4 separate regions of the Homo sapiens genome follow, and all the other regions are reported to be linked to region 1. The links are microRNA targets in miRTarBase. Many come from high-throughput screens and were not tested one by one. Region 1 holds a microRNA gene; each other region holds the end of a gene's coding sequence. Distances are between the middles of the regions.
What was found. Region 1 holds the annotated microRNA hsa-miR-7162-3p (UCUGAGGUGGAACAGCAGC, at 2,379-2,397, shown strand). A microRNA usually pairs through its seed, bases 2 to 8, with sites in the 3' UTR of a target mRNA and lowers its output. Matches are read on the target gene's strand: a 7mer-m8 pairs with bases 2 to 8, a 7mer-A1 pairs with bases 2 to 7 and ends in A, and an 8mer does both.

Region 2: the mRNA of GREB1 is a reported target of hsa-miR-7162-3p. Seed matches in the 3' UTR shown: 7mer-A1 at 2,028-2,034.
Region 3: miRTarBase lists NRIP3 as a target of hsa-miR-7162-3p. Seed matches in the 3' UTR shown: 7mer-m8 at 2,612-2,618.
Region 4: miRTarBase lists ATP5F1C as a target of hsa-miR-7162-3p. Seed matches in the 3' UTR shown: 7mer-A1 at 3,540-3,546.

What each region holds. Positions count from the first base shown.
Region 1 is chr10:30,366,994-30,370,993 of GRCh38, reverse strand. It overlaps MIR7162 (microRNA 7162), which reads left to right and starts at 2,329; the gene lies at 2,329-2,397. It also overlaps the pseudogene GOLGA2P6.
Region 2 is chr2:11,640,181-11,644,459 of GRCh38, reverse strand. It overlaps GREB1 (growth regulating estrogen receptor binding 1), which reads right to left. Exons shown (of 33, transcript NM_014668.4): 33 at 1,672-4,169. The coding sequence ends at 4,006. Among named protein-coding and RNA genes, the nearest start is that of NTSR2, 28 kb to the left of the region's middle.
Region 3 is chr11:8,979,573-8,983,851 of GRCh38, reverse strand. It overlaps NRIP3 (nuclear receptor interacting protein 3), which reads left to right. Exons shown (of 7, transcript NM_020645.3): 7 at 292-3,276. The coding sequence ends at 307. Among named protein-coding and RNA genes, the nearest start is that of TMEM9B-AS1, 17 kb to the right of the region's middle.
Region 4 is chr10:7,806,265-7,810,543 of GRCh38, reverse strand. It overlaps ATP5F1C (ATP synthase F1 subunit gamma), which reads right to left. Exons shown (of 10, transcript NM_001001973.3): 9 at 3,534-3,570; 10 at 2,743-2,885. The coding sequence ends at 3,564. LOC105376392 (a long non-coding RNA gene) reads left to right here. Exons shown (of 3, transcript XR_001747356.1): 2 at 2,002-2,080. Among named protein-coding and RNA genes, the nearest start is that of TAF3, 10 kb to the left of the region's middle.

The DNA of each region.
Region 1 (4,000 bases):
GAGTGCCCCTCTGCCAGCTGAGACAGCCCACACACACCCCAGCCCTAATGATTGTTCTCTCTACCTCTCCCCGCAATCCTCCTCCAATTCCTCCTCTCTGCATGTGCCTCAGAGCCAGTACCAAGAACTAGCAGTAGCCCTGGACTTGAGCTCCACAACAATCAATCAACTCAATGAAAACACCGAGTCATTGCTAAGAGTCCAGTGGGGTCCCCTGATTCCACACTGCCAATCCTGGGCTTCAGTTTCCCTTTGGGGCCCTGAAGAAAGGGTCTGGGGGCCTCTGGTGCTAAGGGTAAATGGGGAGCTGGGGTGCCCAGGCCTCACCCTGAGGGACCCCAGAGCATGGAGCATGCAGCATGGCTCTTCTGTTACTGCCCTCTTTGCTGCAGGGTGGAATGTCCTGCCCAGAAGGCAGCATGGCCATTTCTTGCTGCTTTTGTGTGTGGTTGTTAGAGGCAGCCTGGGGCTGAGTCAGCTGCTGTGGGTTAGTTGCGGGGCACTGTGGGGAGCGAGCACTGGATGCAGAGCTTGGAGGCCAAGTGCCCACCCTGCTGTTACCTGGCTGTGGCCTTGACAAAGTCCTAGGTGGGGGATTGCATACTTGTACTGTGAAGGTACAGAAGAGTACCTTTAGTATGTTACCATTTGTGTAGAGAGGGGGAACGTGTGTGTGTGTGTGTGTACGTACGTACTATGATAATATACATAAAACATGTCTGCAAGGATTTGTAAAAAATTCAGCAGAGAGCAACAGGGTGGCTGGGAGATACTTCCCGTCTGTACCTTCTGAGTTGTGGACTATGTGAATGTATCATCCTTTCAAAAAATGAATAAAAGATTAATTTCCCCCTTCCTATCTGTGCCCCAACCCCCAGCAAGAAAAATGGGCTTAGAGAATAGGATAGACCTGGGTATTCAAATCCCAGCTCTGTCTAAGTGACCTTAGGCAAGCACTTAACCTCTAATACTAATAATAGAAACTCTAATACTCTAATAGTAACTCTAATACTAATAATAGAGGTAATCATAGTAACTGTCTCATATGGTGGTTATGAGGATTCAGTGGGATCGTTAGCATGGTAACTGGCGAAGCACTCAATAAACATTCAAACAGTGGTAGTAATAACAGTAATAACAACAGCAATATTATCTGATCTCTCTGGGCCTCTGTTAGCCAGCTGTAAATTCGATCTTTTTCCCTGTCCCTTCCAACTTTACTGAGTTCTTTTAAAAACCAGACCACAGGCTTAGAAATGCCTTGACCTTTACTGACCAAGTTGTATATTGAGCCTAACCCTAGCCCTTTTAAGGGGCACTGTGTGGAACGGCCCAGGCTCCCCAGATCGAAACTTCTCACTCTTCACCATACAGTCCTCGAGCCGCTGTGAAGCAGTCCTCAAGCGGCAGTTATGGCAGTCCATAAAGGCTCGGGCACAGCTGGAAGCACACGTGACACAGGTGAAGCTTTGTAGAGGGAGGGATGTGGGAGGAAGATGACGCCAGGTGGCCAGGAGCAGGTGAGGACCAGTGACAGCCTTTCCTAACTTCTGTGCCCATTCTTGCAGATGTTGGAACAAGTCCAGCTAGAGACAGATGAATATACTCAACATCTAAAAGGAGAGAGGGCCCGGTGGCAGCAGAGGGTATGGAAAATGTCAGAGGAGGTGAGACCTGACCCTTAAGCCCCCCACTTTAGATAGGTCACTGGATCTTTCTGGCCATCTGTAAAATGGGAATAGTACAGCCAGAGGTGGTCATGGGTCTGGGCTTTGTAGAGGTGGAGGCAGAGAGGGAGTTGGTAGCCTGTCCAACCACCAGCCCCTCTCTCCAGGGCCCTGTCCCCCGTGCTTTGGGCAGGTTTGCACATGGAAGGAGGAGAAGAAGCATGACAGGCATCGGGTACAGGAGCTGGAGAGGAGCTTGGCCGAACTCAAAAACTAGATGGGTAAGATGGGGCTGGCATGGCCTGGGAGCAGGACTGGCATCAGAGGGCTGTGGGGATGGCTTAGAATGCCCCAGGGAGGTGGGTAGATGGAAGGGCTTTGAGGCAGAGGGAAAGAGGTCTGTGCCAGGAGACGGCAAGTCTTATAATCTCCATGAACCTCAGTGTCGCCATCAACAAAGAGGGAGGAGTGCTCATTGTCAGCCACCCACAGTGCTCTCTATCTGAAAGTGGCTTGGAAGATTGGCTACCATCCGAGAGCGAGGAATCGTTAGCAGTGAGGCCAAGTTTGGGGAGCCTGAGAGGATCTGTGCACCAAGAGAAGGGCTTTTATTTGTTGTTTTGTTTTGTTTTGTTTTGTTAACCCAGAGGCCCTTGTTGTCTGCTTCCTTTCTCAGCTGAACCCCTGCCCCTGGAGCCCCCAGCAGGGCCCTCTGAGGTGGAACAGCAGCTACAAGCTGAGGCCGAGCACCCGAGGAAGGAGCAGGAGAGTCTGGCAGGACAGCTCCAAGCTCAGGTGCAAAACAATCAAGGCTTGAGTCACCTGAACTGGGAGCAGGAGGAGAGGCTGCTGGAACGGGAGACGCTGCGGGAGCAGGAGAGGCTGCAGGAGCTGGAGGAGAAGCTGCAGGAGTAGGAGAGGCTGGGAGAGCGGGAGGAGAGTCTGCGGGAGCGGGAGGAGAGTCTGCGGGAGCGGGAGGAGAGGCTACGGGAGTGGGAGGAGAGGCTGCGGAGCAGGAGGACAGGCTGCTCGAGCTGGGGCGGAAAGCCAAGCTCTGGGAGGAGCAGGCAGAGACGTGCATGCAGGCCCTGCGGAACCACACCACCATCAACCACGTGCTCTCTCAGAACCATGAGCTCGACTAGCAGCTGGCTGGGCCACAGAGCGGCTTAGAGGAGCTGGTGCGTTGCCCCGCCTCGTGAGCCTGCCCTCCTCCCTTGCCCTCCAGGCCTTTGATTCCCCACCTGTAAGATGGGGCAGTGTAGCCCTCACGTGAAATGGTACTTCTAAAGGCACCTGTGAGCCAGAGCCCTGCTCTGATGGCTGTGGGAGAGAGGGGATAATTTTTCTAACCTGCCTCCACCCTTCCTGGTGCCATGGGAGGCAGACACCAAGTTCTGGGGTCTCCAGCTGCAGTGGGTGGCCACTGATTGCTTCTCTCTGTCCAGAACAACGAGAATAAGAGTGCACTACAGTTGGAGCAGCAAGTAAAGGAGCTGCAGGAGAAGCTGGGCAAGCTGAAGGAGACTGTAACCTCTGCCCATCCAAGAAGGGCTGGGAGGTGAGCACCAGCCTCTGGGGAGGGGAGGTGTGAGGCCAAAAGCAGCTCCAGCCCGGGGGCAGGTGACCCCAGCTCCCTCCAGGGCAGTCCTGTGACTGTTTCTTGCTTCCTGCCCTCTGACTTTTAGAGGTGGGTAGCCCTGGGCTCCTCCCAGGTGTGGACATCATCATCCCAGCTAGAGGCATGGAGCCCCCCAATCACAGGGGAGGAGTCGTGGTATAAGAGGCTCCTTATGTCAGGCATGGTGGCTCACGCCTGTAATCCCAGCACTTTGGGAGGCTGAGGCAGGAGAATCACTTGGGGTCTGGAGTTTGAGACCAGTCTGGATAACATGGCAAAACCTCATCTCTACCAATATCACACACACACACACACACACACACACACACACACACACACACACACACACACACACTAGCCGGGCATGGTGGCGCATGCCTGTAATCCCAACTACTCAGGAAGTTGAGGCATGAGAATCGCTTGAGCCTGGGAGGTGGAGGTTGCAGTGAGCTGACATTGCACCACTGCACTCTAGTCTGGGCCACAGAGTGACACTCTGTCGCAAAACGAAACAAAACAAAACAAAAACAAAAAAGTCTCCTTAGATTCAAACTAGATTCCAGCCTCAGTTCCACTGGTCGCCATTCAACCACTTTGCATCTCTAAGTCTCTGTTCCTTTAACTTCAAAAGGAAGTTAGCATTTTCCTTGCAGAGGTGCTGAGGATTAAATGAGATAATACATGGAAAGTATTAGTCATATAGCACACTTAG
Region 2 (4,279 bases), not on the chromosome of region 1:
GCCCCTCTTCTCATATTTCTAACAGTTCTCACTTTATATATTTCATAGCATGTGGGCATGTCTACATAAGTTTGTGATCAAAATGTTAAATTCTATTCTGATTAGCTTTCTCAGTCCAATCTGAGCACCTCAATCTATTTTTAGGTAAATTTAATCCACTTATATTTCTTTTGACTGTTGATATGTTTGGATGTTTGTCCCCTCCAAATCTCATGTTGAAATGTGATCCCCAATATTGGAGGTGGGGCCTGGTGGGAGGTGTTTAGGTCATGGGGGGCAGATTCCATCGTGCTTAGATTGCTTGGTGCTGTCCTCAGGATGAGTGGGTTCTCCCTGTGAGTTCACACGAGATCTGGTTGTTTAAAAGTGTGTGGCACCTCCCCACCTCTCTCTTGCTCCTGCTCTCACAATGTGTCTGCCCCCCTTCACCTTCCACGGTGATTGGAAGCTTCCTGAAGCCTTCACCAGGAGCAGATGCCAGCACCATGCTTCCTATACAGCCTGCAGAACCGTGAGCCAATAAACCTCTTATAAATTACCCAGTCTCAGGTATTCCTTTATAGTAACATACAAATGGACACACACACCTGCCATCTAATTTTGTTTCTTATTTGCCAAGATTTCCTGTTGTTCTCCCCATCCCCAACTGTTCTTTCCTTATGTTGGATTTCATTGATGTGGTGTTTGCTGTCTTCCCTTTAATGTTTTAGATGTTGGACATCCTTTCTTTTCTCCCAGTGGTCATCCGAAATGCTTAACATGCATATTTAAATGTTCCTTTTCTACCAGCATATTAATCAGTGCTGACCCTGTAAATCAAAAATTTCAGCTCGACTTCACTATTTTCTTAGTTTCTCCATCACTGATCACTCCCACCCCTGCTCCCATGTTGAGATCATTGCGGGTATGAGAGATTCATTCATTCACTGAGTGGGCAATGAATGAGCACATACCAGGAGCTGGGCAAATTCAAAGCTCTGGGCATGCAGCACTGAATGTTTCTTACAGAATTCCTACCTTCACAGAAGGAGACAAAAATAGCAAAAATGTATTCTATGTTAGTAGTTCCCCAGTATGGGATGGCCTCATTGGGAAGGTGACTTACGAGTAGCAAGAAAACATCAGGGTGTGGGAGAGTCCAAGGGATGAGCACTCCTGGCATGAGAGGCAGCAGGCCTGAGTGGGCACTTGCCTGGCAGGGTCCAGGGAGCTGATGGGGAGTGAGCAAGGGGGCCACTGGCCTTAGCCATGGCCGCATGCTTAGCCCAGGTCAGTGGAGCATGGGAAGCACGGCGGGAAGCGCTGCAGGGAATCAACCAGGCTGGCTGCTCCAAACCGCTCCCCCTGGTGATCATCCAGACAAATGCCCCAGGTCCCTTCCACTCTTTGCAGCCACCGTGAAGCTCAGAGTCCCCCCAAACTTTCTTCCCTTGGTGGCAGGCTTCTCTGCACATTCTGAGCTGGTTTCCTCCATATTTGTTCTCCTGCACGTCCAATGCAGTCTGCCTTTTTATCCTCAGGAATTCTGCAACATGTTAATATATTCCACTTTTATGGTTTTATTCTTATTTCTTTTCCAAAACTATCCATTTTAAGCAGCTAGTCCCCAGAGATGACTAGCCACACTACCTTATCTCGAAACAGTGCTATGAATACTCACCAACAAAACAATACATGCATTATAAGTTTTATTTATAAGACTGGAACAGACAAGAATATTAGTTTGAGGGTTTTTTCCAATTTAAATTAACTAATAAAGTGGGGAGAATGACACAAAAGCTGCTATTTACAAAAGACAAGTATATGATTAAAGAAGGTCAGTTTTTATTCCAAAATAGGAATAATGAGATATACAAAGTAATCATTTTATAAACATTGATCTAAATATTTAATACTCGCGGACTTTTTTTCTTAGGAAAAAAAGATTGACATCAACTCTTCGGCATCATCTTTTACAATCATTTATTCTTGGATTGTTATCCATTAGAGTGCTTATAAATGTCTAGGATAGATGTGTAAGAATGCATTCTGAGGCCAGGCGCAGTGGCTCATGCCTGTAATCCCAGCACTTTTGGAGGATGAGGTGGGCAGATCACCTGAGGCCAGGAGTTCACAAGACCAGCCTGGCCAACCTGGCGAAACCCCATCTCTACTAAAAAAAAAAAATACAAAAATTAGCTGGGCATGGTGGTGGGCGCCCATAATCCCAGCTACTCGGGAGGCTGAGGCTGGAGAATCACTTGAACCCAGGAGGCAGAGGTTGCAGTGAGCCGAGGTCATTGCACCATTGCACTCCAGCCTGGGCAGCAAGAGTGAAACTCCGTCTCCGAAAAAAAAAAGAATGCATTCTGATGATTAAATTGAACTGTCTTTAAACTTTTCCTTCAAGTTATGGGCCACTTCAAAAACAGTGTGGCATTGAGGGTAGGCAAGTGGGAGAAGGGAGACCTGGACTGCAGAGTCCAGAAGCCAGAACTTTGAACTGTGCTTCTAGCTCTTTCCAGCAGTGAGAACTTGGAAAGGTAGACTCTTTGCATCTCAACCTTCTCATCTTTCAAAGGGGATGAATAATTCCAATCACACAAGAAAGGACTGAACAAGATGAACAAGATGATCACTGTCCAGGCGCCGGGCAATGGGTGGCCTCTCAACTGTGGCTTTAAAAACCATTCTGGGGCAGGCACGGTGGCTCACGCCTGTAATCCCAGCACTTTGGGAGGCCGAGGCGGGCGGATCACGAGGTCAGGAGATCGAGACCATCCTGGCTAACATGGTGAAACCCCGTCTCTACTAAAAAATACAAAAAATTAGCCGGGCGTGGTGGTGGGCGCCTGTAGTCCCAGCTACTCGGGAGGCTGAGGCAGGAGAATGGTGAGAACCCGGGAGGCGGAGCTTGCAGTGAGCCGAGATCGCACCACTGCACTCCAGCCTGGGTGACAGAGCTAGAGTCCATCTCAAAAACAAAACAAAACAAAACAAAACAAAACAAAACCATTCTGTCAGTCTGTGAAGGGGTGAGCCCTAAGAAATACATCTCCCTGCCTCCTTCTCTCTTCTGTTCCCACCTCCTCTCTAGTCAAGTGAGATTCTTCCCTGAGGAACCAAACATTAGTAAGAGAAAATGAGCTACTTCAGCAACTGAAAACTAAACTCTAGTAAACTACAGTCATAAGTCTAGTTCTCATCAACTATTTTATATATCACTTTGGTTGTTTTCATTGTCTGTTTCAAGTAAGCAATGTGGTCCTTTCTCCTTTGTAAGGCTAATTTTAGGTCAACCTCTGTTAGCCTTATTTCCTCCCCGCCAACTCCCCCCCCAAAAAACCCTTTTAGTTTTAAAGAAAGCTTCTTTGCATTTTTGCCCTTTCTAAGAGGTAGGGTATTTACCCTATATTATTTTAATAGGATCATATTTGCTCTGAAGTAAATCAATTTGTTTAACTTTATTAAATTTGATGCCTTTGGGCTAGCCTCTGAAACAGCAAACTTATAGGCAATTAAATAATTGTTATTAAAACGATCTACTTATTTTTTCTTGTCTCCAGCCTTTACAGTTAAAATGTTCCTTTGGAATATTGCTTTGTAGGAGGTTACAGGGGAACCTACTTGGCTGAAATCCCATCTACTGAAATACTGGCACCGCTACAAAATAACCCAAGATTCTTTAGAACTAAGAGAAAAAAATCAGGTTTGTCCATGGAAGCACACGAATGGCAGGACAGGAAGTAAATCTTTGTTCCTCGTGAAATGGGCTTTAAAACAGCCCAGAGCAATGGGCTGGCCCAGAACTTGGGAGTCTCAAGTTTTCATTCTCACCCACTGCGGAGTCTTCCTGGCTCCCAGGACCACGGCCTCGGGGGCCCATGTGTACTAGGAGGGGCTGCACCTGGACAGTCCCTGGGGTCCATTCCAGTCAAACGCCCCACCGTTCCAGGCCTCCCTTTAGCCTCAACAGCATGAGGGCTCTGAGCACTCATCTCTTCAGAAAACTCGCCGCTGTCTTCCTCAGATGTGTCGTCCCGTCAGAAAAAAGAGCGGCCGGTCTTCCCTGGCATTGGCGGTCTGGAACTCATCGCGCAGCCGGAACTGCCACTCGTCCTCGAGCTCCAGGCGGACGACCGTCTGGCGCAGTGAGCTCCGGTCCTGACAGATGACACACAACGTCGCACCTGCGTGGACAACGGCAGAGGTGTGGGAAGGGAAAAGGTGAGTTTATCCAGAGGAAAGCGGCTGCCCGGATTCTACTTGCAATGACAAGACAGGGCGCTGTTGGGAAGGG
Region 3 (4,279 bases), not on the chromosome of region 1:
CAAGTCACATCCATTTGTCATCAGCTGCGAGCAGGGTGGTGGTGGTTCTCAGACAGGACATGGGGTTGTATCCTGTCTTTGGCTTTCAATTATACTACAAATCCACCCTTCCCCACACCCAGAGTTCATCACCCCACAAAACTCTGTAGTGCACACATCAGAATGAGCAATGGTGATGCCACACAGAGTGGTAGGGAAATGACTAGCTTTGAAAGCAAAATTTTACTTGCCTTCAGCTTAACTTTTTTTGAATTTGGCATTATTTCTCCTGATATTTATTTCTCATTTCAGCACTTCAGAAGCATAACTACAGCCTGCAGCATGTCTGCACGTGTGCATGCATACACACCGGGTTGACAGATAGAGAAAACTGGGTTTGAACCAAATGCCGTAGTGACTTGCTGTGGACCAAGTCCTTCCATCTAATAGAAGCTCCAGGGGCTCCTTCCCATTCAGACCTCTCTAGACTATAGTCTATGCTTAGAGATCTTGTCTGGTTATGGCCATTGTTTTTTACTACTTTGATCACTTAACTTATAGACCTTTTTTGACACTGCCAGTCTCACTTGTGGCCTATTTCTCTGCTTCTTCCAGGAATTTGCTTTTATTAGTCAAGTATAGGGGCTGCCAGGTTCTGTGTCTCCATAGATATATGTGCTTCTTTTCCTATAGCTAAATGTATAATAAACAGGAACCTGACCTTTACCTCCTTTCAGCTGTTTCAAACAGGTGCCAGGATACCTATGTCTTAGAATTAGAGTTTCTTCAAATTGATTCATTGATTTCTCAAGTATGGATTATGTGAAAGAGCCCAGGGACATTATCCATTACAGTTTAACTCTTTCATTTAAAGGTCCAGAGAGGCAAGTGAATTGTCTAAGTTCATATATTAGGTCAGTGACTGAAGGGACCAAGAACGCAGACCTGATTTCCAAGCCAAGACTCCCATGCTGCCTCATTTGTATTCAAGCCTTTAACAGGAGGGCAAAGAGGTGAGAATGTGTTAAAAAAAAAAAAAAAAAGGCAGAGCATGGGAGGAATATTCTCTGGAGATGGATGCTAGGATGATTTGGGTAGCTCTCCCTCCTGTGTGCCAAGCCCAGTAAAAGTTCCTTGCCCCAAACTGTCACATTTAGGCCCTCATCTTGGTGCCTAAAAACGAGCGTACAAAGATGAATGAAATGGTTTCTCACTGTGAACCTCTTGGAGGAAAGGAGGAACCACAGACAGAGGAATATTAATCCCTCTCTGATATGGAATTGAAGGCTTAAGTAAATCAGAGTGTCACTGTCAGACGTTGATTACTCCCAAGATCCGATCAGCATTTCTGCCCATCCTATTATGTGTCTGTCAAGGACTGAAGTAGCTGGAAACCAGGAGTAGAGAAAGATGGGGGGAAAAAAAGAGCAAGGCCAGAATAGAAGGGAGTAGACTGAGTAGAATCAGTTGGTGGAGAGGCCTATCTAGATAAACCTTTCTGGGAGGCAGGGAATGACATTTTCAGGCAGGGAATTGAGATGTTCAGTTCTGTCCTGATACAAGGAAAGAGGCAGAGCAGGAGCCGGCAATGTTAAGGACAACTTTTTATAACTGCCCAGTATTTCCTGACCCCTGTCAAAGGTTGGGGAGAATACAAGGTTTCTTGAAGCTTTTTGACTGGGGTGTCACATTAGGCACACAGGTGTCTATAATGGAATCTCCCCTTCAGTTTGGTCATAGAAGTGCTTGGACAAGTCAGAAAAATAGCTAGCTGTGGGTATCCCTTTAAGATATTCCCAAGTCTACCCTGTGTCATAGCAGTAGTTCTCAGAGTGTTTGTTTAAAGGATCCCACTTTGAACTTTGCCAAGTACTACCAACTACCTTGTCTGGTGTTCAGCAACTGCCCCTACTGAACAGCCCTTTGGAACTCTGAATGATTTGGGCCTCACAGAAGCTCCCTAAAGCCTAGGAACTTGGTGACTATCATTTGAACAACTAGGCAGCCATACTGCAGTCAGTTGTCATGGGGTCATTCCCTAGGCCCCCTTCCTATCAGCCTCTACCTAAAGAAGCTAGATAGGAAGCTAAGCACAGCCATGGTTGGGAGGCTATATCTAAAGCTCATGAGGGGTGATCCCGGGGTTACCAGCCTTCAGCACTCCCTCTAGCAACACCCCATTCTCTTACCTAGCGGGGATTTGTACCTTTCCACTGAGGCCTCTCCATGCTCCTTCCCTACCTTTCATGGCAATACTTTGGCCTGCCTCTTATCCTGGTACTAAGTTGAAGTAAAGCTCACCCTTTACTTCCCTACTTGAAAGTTCTACTCTGAGCCTTGACTCTTAGCCACAGTGAGGCATGTTGAAGGTTCCTGCTGGTTTATTCTTTTTTTTTTTTTTTTTTTAGACAGAGTCTCACTCTGTTGCCCAGGCTGGAGTGCAGTGGCACGATCTCGGTTCACTGCAAGCTCCGCCTCCCGGGTTCATGCCATTCTCCTGCCTCAGCCTCCCAAGTAGCTGGGACTACAGGCACCTGCCACCACGCCTGGCTAATTTTTTGTATTTTTAGTAGAGACGGGTTTCACCGTGTTAGCTAGGATGGTCTCGATCTCCTGACCTTGTGGTCCGCCCACCTCAGCCTCCCAAAGTGCTGGGATTACAGGCGTGAGCCACCGCACCCGGCCTTCATTCACTTTCTTTAAATGCCTCCAAGTTGATTATTCTCCTAGCTCATATCTCCTTGATGTGCATGAGGGAGCACTGGGTCTAATTTTTGGGGGCTGAGAAGGTAAGAAGGTGAGGTCAGTTTTTCCCAGGAGTCCTAAAAAATTCTGGTACCTTACATTGAGGGTGTGGGAGAAAGGGTGTCATAGTTCTGAAAATAGGCAGTAGCATGAAGCACCAGACCTGTCTCATTCCTTATTAGATGTCTATCTCAAATAACAGAGTTTGAAAAATATTGGTTTTATCATTTGATATTTCCATGCCTGACTCGGGAAAATAACATTTTCTGACTTCTTTCTATTTTCTTGCCCTGCACAGACCCTACCTGGTACAATTTTCTATTTCTTAGCTCAAAGTGTCTATACAATGGGTTGCCTGGTATGTCAGCTGCCCTCACTCTTGTGTAATAGAAATATATTGCCAGGCTGGGGACGTGGAGGAGACGAACTGGATTCCTCCCTCCTCCTGTTGCCAGGCCTCTCTGCATTGGCACTTTATCCTTTCAGTGTTTCTGGCTGTGTTGGGTTCATTTGTGAGACTGATGTAACAATAAAGTGAAATCTTCCCCTCTGTGTGCTTGTCTGACAAAGTCTTTGTGTCAGGGCTCCAGTCTGGAAGGTGGGGGAGACTAGGTAAAGTCTAATTGCATCAGCATTTTTCTCTTAGGGTCTCCTGTTCCTCCATTGCTACTGGCCCTTCAGGTGTCTCTTACTGACTGTATGTCGAGCACATTAGCAAACCTCACTGAGCTTGGTTTTGTAATCTATAAAACAGAAGTAATAAAAGTGCTTACCTCACAGTGTCAAATAAGAAAATCCATATAGAGTGGTTGGCATATGGTAGTCACTCAGAACTTCATATACGGGAACAATCTTTTATGGTGGACCTGTCAGCAGTCCGAGAGAACACTTCTAGAAAAGGAAATATAGCTGGACGCGGTGGCTCACACCTGTAATCCCAGCACTCTGGAAGGCTGAGGCTGGAGGATTACTTGAGCCCACGAGTTCAAGACCAGCCTGGACCACATAGCAAGACCCCCTTCTCTACAATTTTTTTTTTTAATTAGCCGGGAGTGGTGGCATGCACCTGTAGTCCCAGCTACTTGAGAGACTGAGGCAGGAGGATCACTTGAAGCCTGGAGGTCTAGGCTGCAGTGAGCCATGATTGAGCCACTGTACTCCAGCCTGGGCGACAGGGCAAGACCCTGTCTCAAACAAACAAACAAAAAAAAAAAAAAAAAAAGGAAATATTTAGTTCAAACAAATAGGAGAGGTTTGGGAAGGGAAAGAGTTGAATGAACCTTAATATATAGTTAAAGTCATTGTCCAAATGGCATCTCAAATAAATGTATTTTCAAGATGATGGAAACTTACCTTTTAAGTATTGATGTTTTTTTTTTTTTTTTAACAACTAATTCAACTCTGTTTATTTTTGACGAAACCGATTTCTTTCATTCAGTTCATACTACGCGTCCACACTGTGCCTCCAAAAATATTTGCCCTTATAACTGAATGCTCAGAAAGGCTAAGAAATCTGCCCAAGGTCCCCTGGCAATCCAGCCAGAGATGTGAGTCA
Region 4 (4,279 bases), 23 Mb from region 1:
GACTGCACAGTTCTTAAGCTTCATTTAGAGAGTTTTGAATAATGATAATAAAATTTCTGAAAGCTTCAACTATTCTATATTAAAGCACACAGAGAAACAGTTTCCTAAAGGGCACATTATAGACAACAGTTGTAATGATGGAAACTCAATCCTAGAATATTAAAATTAACAGACCTAGCCCTTTAGGTACTGTGTAGGTGTTTGCAGAAAATAGGATAGCCAGGAGCAGTGGCTCACTCCTGTAATCCCAGCACTTCAGGAGGCCGAGCCAGGCAGATCACTGAGGCCAGGAGTTCGAGACCAGCCTGGGCAACATGGCAAAACCCTGTCTCTACTAAAAATACAAAAATCAGCCAGGCATGGTGTAGTCCCAGTTACTTGGGAGGCTGAGGTGGGAGGATGGCTTGAGCCCAGGAGGTGAAGTTTGCAGTAAGTCAAGATCCTGCCACTGCACTCCAGCCTGGGCGATAAGAGCCAGACCTCATCTCAAAAAAAAAAGCAGTTTGAATTATGTAATAAACCTTACCAGTGGTCATTTATCACTGTAATTCCACTGTGTTATGCCACTTAGCAAAAGGAGAGGACAGAAGTTGGGGGAAAATTTCAAGCTTACTCTTTGATTCCTTCCTACATGTCTAAACCACACAGCATGGTACACTCACCTTTCCAGATTTATCTTGCCTTTCTCGTTCTCTGTATTAGCAGTTTTCAGAATGTGCATTTGAACAGATTTTGGTCTTTGCTTTTTCTGCTTCCTTGGCCTGAAATGCCTTCCCTCCCCACCAGTTAGCTCTAGTAGTTTAATTTCTACTGTTGGTCACTGGTCCTTGAGGACTGTTTAGACCTCCCTTCCTCCAAGCTGGACGGCCTTCTCAGTCCCCTTCATCTGTCCCCAAATTGAGTCACTGTCCCTCTTGTGGCTCACCAATTGTAACTTACCACATTCTGTCATTTGCTTGTGTTCCCTCCAGACTGTAAGCTCCTGCAAGGAGGCGTTTTGTTATTGTATCCTCAGAGAGTCAGAGTGCCAGTACACAGAAGAGCACCACTAAAGGCTACAGGGAGCTGATGATTAATTTTACATAGAGCAGACATTTAACCAAGAATATAGCACTTACTCCCTGTCAGATTCTCGATATTTTAAAATATTAGCTCATTTAATCCTAACAATCTTTTAATCTCCATCTTATAGATCATAAAACTGAAAGATTAAGTAACTTGCCCAAGGTCACAGCTGTTAAGGGCTGAGCTAGTATTCCAGTTCAGACACAGATTATTCTTACTTATGTTGACTGATTTCAAATTCCTGCTTTTCCTCCTTCCATGATGTCTAGGACACTCAAATCACCCTCACAAATGTGTTCTGCTCTCCTAGAAACTGGAGGTGGGTCAAGCCAAGCTTAGAAGCAAAATACAAAACAGGATGGGCATGGTGGCTCACACCTGTAATTCCAGCACTTTGCAGGGCTAAGGAGGATCACTTGAGCCCAGGAGTTCAAGACCAGACTGGGCAAAATAGCAAGACCCCATCTCTAAAAAAAAAATTTTTTTTTAAATTAGCCAGGTATAGTGGCGTGCACACACACACACACACATACACACAGCCTCCAGAGGCACGTGGTTCGTTGCTAACATTCCCAAAAGGTATCTTGTACTGGTTCACACTACACCTCCATCTGATTCCTCAGTTGTGAGCTGTTTCTTTCTCCTAGTCTCAGCCACCAACCCCTTCAGAAGTGGCTCCTGAAAACTTTGAGGGGAGTTAGAAAATGACTTTGAAGCTCTGGTCAGTTCACTGAACCTTTTTATTCATTACCACGAATATAGCTGTAAATATTTAAAGAATCCATTCTAAATACATGCATTCATTTGTTTTTAAAAGAGGAGCTTGTTAAGAATGGGTTTTATATTGTTTATAATTTTATGTATTTTGGAATTTATATATTACTTTTGTAATTAAAAAAAACCCAAAAAACTAAGTTATCAATTTTAAACAAATAGGGAAAAGCCTGAAATTTTGGCATGGCCAACTCAGAGTGTGGAGTCAACGCAGGCATCTAATCTTAATTGTGATCTAAATGTGAGTATCGTACTTTTCTCAGTGTTTAGAAAAGATGTTTTAAATAATTTAGAGTAAGTATATGCTTGCAATTTTGTATCCAGAATTCCAAGCAAATGCTTCCTGTGGCATTTTTTTTTTTTTTTTGGAACAGAGTCTTACTCTGTTGCCCAGGCTGGAGTACAGTGGCGCGATCTCAGCTCACTGCAACCTCTGCCTCCCAGGTTTAACCGATTCTCCTGCCTCAGCCTCCTGAGTAGCTGGGATTACAAGTGTGCACCATTTTTGTATTTTGTTTTGTTTTTAGTAGAAACAGGGTTTCACCATGTTGGCCAGGCTAGTCTCAAATTCCTGACCTCCAGTGATCCACCTTGAGTCTCAGTCTCCCAAAGTGTTAGGACTGCAGGCATGAGCCACCGTGCCTGGTCTTGTTGACTGTTCTTTAAGGCTGTAATAAGGCACAGAACTGGGCTGAGGCTGTGGCTGCAGCCCTTTCCCTCTACGTTGTCCCCATAGAGGCTAGACATTTTAAGGTCAGTGGAGCACTACCAAATCAAAAGAGCCTCTTAAATTGTCTTCTACTAAAAAATTTTAATAGTAGCATATTAATATTTTTAAATGTTTTAGTATCATCTCATTTCAAAAACTATATCTATTGTTCTTATATATAAGAAAAACAATGATTTTATTTTAAGTTGTTTATTTTAAGATAATTTACAAATATCTTGCTGTCTTCAGTAATTCAAATAATGGAGGAACAGTTTCTTCGGACAAAGGCAGCAGTAAGCTAAAAACAAAATCAACTGGCTGAATTTTCCTTCTTTACCTGAAAAACAAAGTACAGAACAAGTAAGAAATCAAACAGCATTTTTTGGGAAAATAATGTCAAGAGATAATAATACATATTTAAGTGGGGTACAGAGAACTGAATTTACACAATAAAGTGTTACCCTATACCAGTGATTCTAAAATTTTGGTCTGGGGAACCTTTCATGGGGTTCATGAGGTCAAAACTATTTTCATGATAATGTTATTTTGCCTGTTATATTCTCATTCTCGAGTATACAGTAGAGTTTTCCAGAGGCCACATGATCCATGACATCACAACAAAATGAATAGAGACAGATGAAAATCTAGCTGGCTTCTGCTACATGAATCAGACATTAAGGGGTCCAGAGACCATAAAGTGTGACAACCACCACTCTTCACAACCTATATATAATATCTCAAAATAATGTTAATTCTCTATCCTCAAAGTTTATTTCCTTATATCTACATTTTCTATGATCAACACACTCACTACAAAAAAGTCCACTAGCGTTGCCCAGGTGCTCCCGTGAGTTGGCTGCTACTGTGAAGTGGCCCATCCATCTAAATCTCTCAGAGGACAATTCTAGGATTACTAAATTAGCTTAACTTATATCTGAATAGGTTTCTTTTCTGAACAGACATGGGAAGAATGTGTGAACTTTACCTCTTGTCTGAGGATGGAACTTGATTTTCATTAATCCCTGGTTATTATATTAGAAGAAAAAGACAAACACAAAACAAGCAGGTCAAGAAGCAATCCATGCTAGTTAATCACATATGCTTTCCAATGAAAAAAAGTCAATTGTTAAACTTGATACCTTGAGTACATCATGCAAAAATACTTACCACAAGATTCCTTTGAAACAGACTCAATGACTGTTATAAAAAGTCATAGATTTCAATCCAGGTTAGAAGCAATAAAAACATGCTCATGCAAGTAGGCAAGACTATGAATATGTAATTTAAATTACAATTTTTCTATAAATTAACACAATATATTTAGAGGTTTTTTTTTTTTTTGGAGATGGAGTCTTGTTCTGTTGCCCAGGCTGGAGTGCAGTGGCGTGATCTCAGCTCACTGCAACCTCCTCCTGGGTTCAAGTCATTCTCCTGCCTCAGCCTCCCGAGTAGCTGGGATTACAGGTGCCCGCCACCACGCCCAGCTAATTTTTGTACTTTTTTAGTAGAGACGGGGTTTTGCCATGTTGGCCAGGCTGGTCTGGAACTCCTGACCTCAGGTGATCCACCCGCCTCGGCCTCCCAAAGTGCTGGGATTACAGGCATGAGCCACTGCGCCTGGCCATATTTAGTTTTTAGGCTGGCAACTAATACTTGGACCTCGAATACTATGGTTTACTCATGTTCTTAATTATATTACTAAATAGCCAAATATGTTTATTTTGTTTTTTG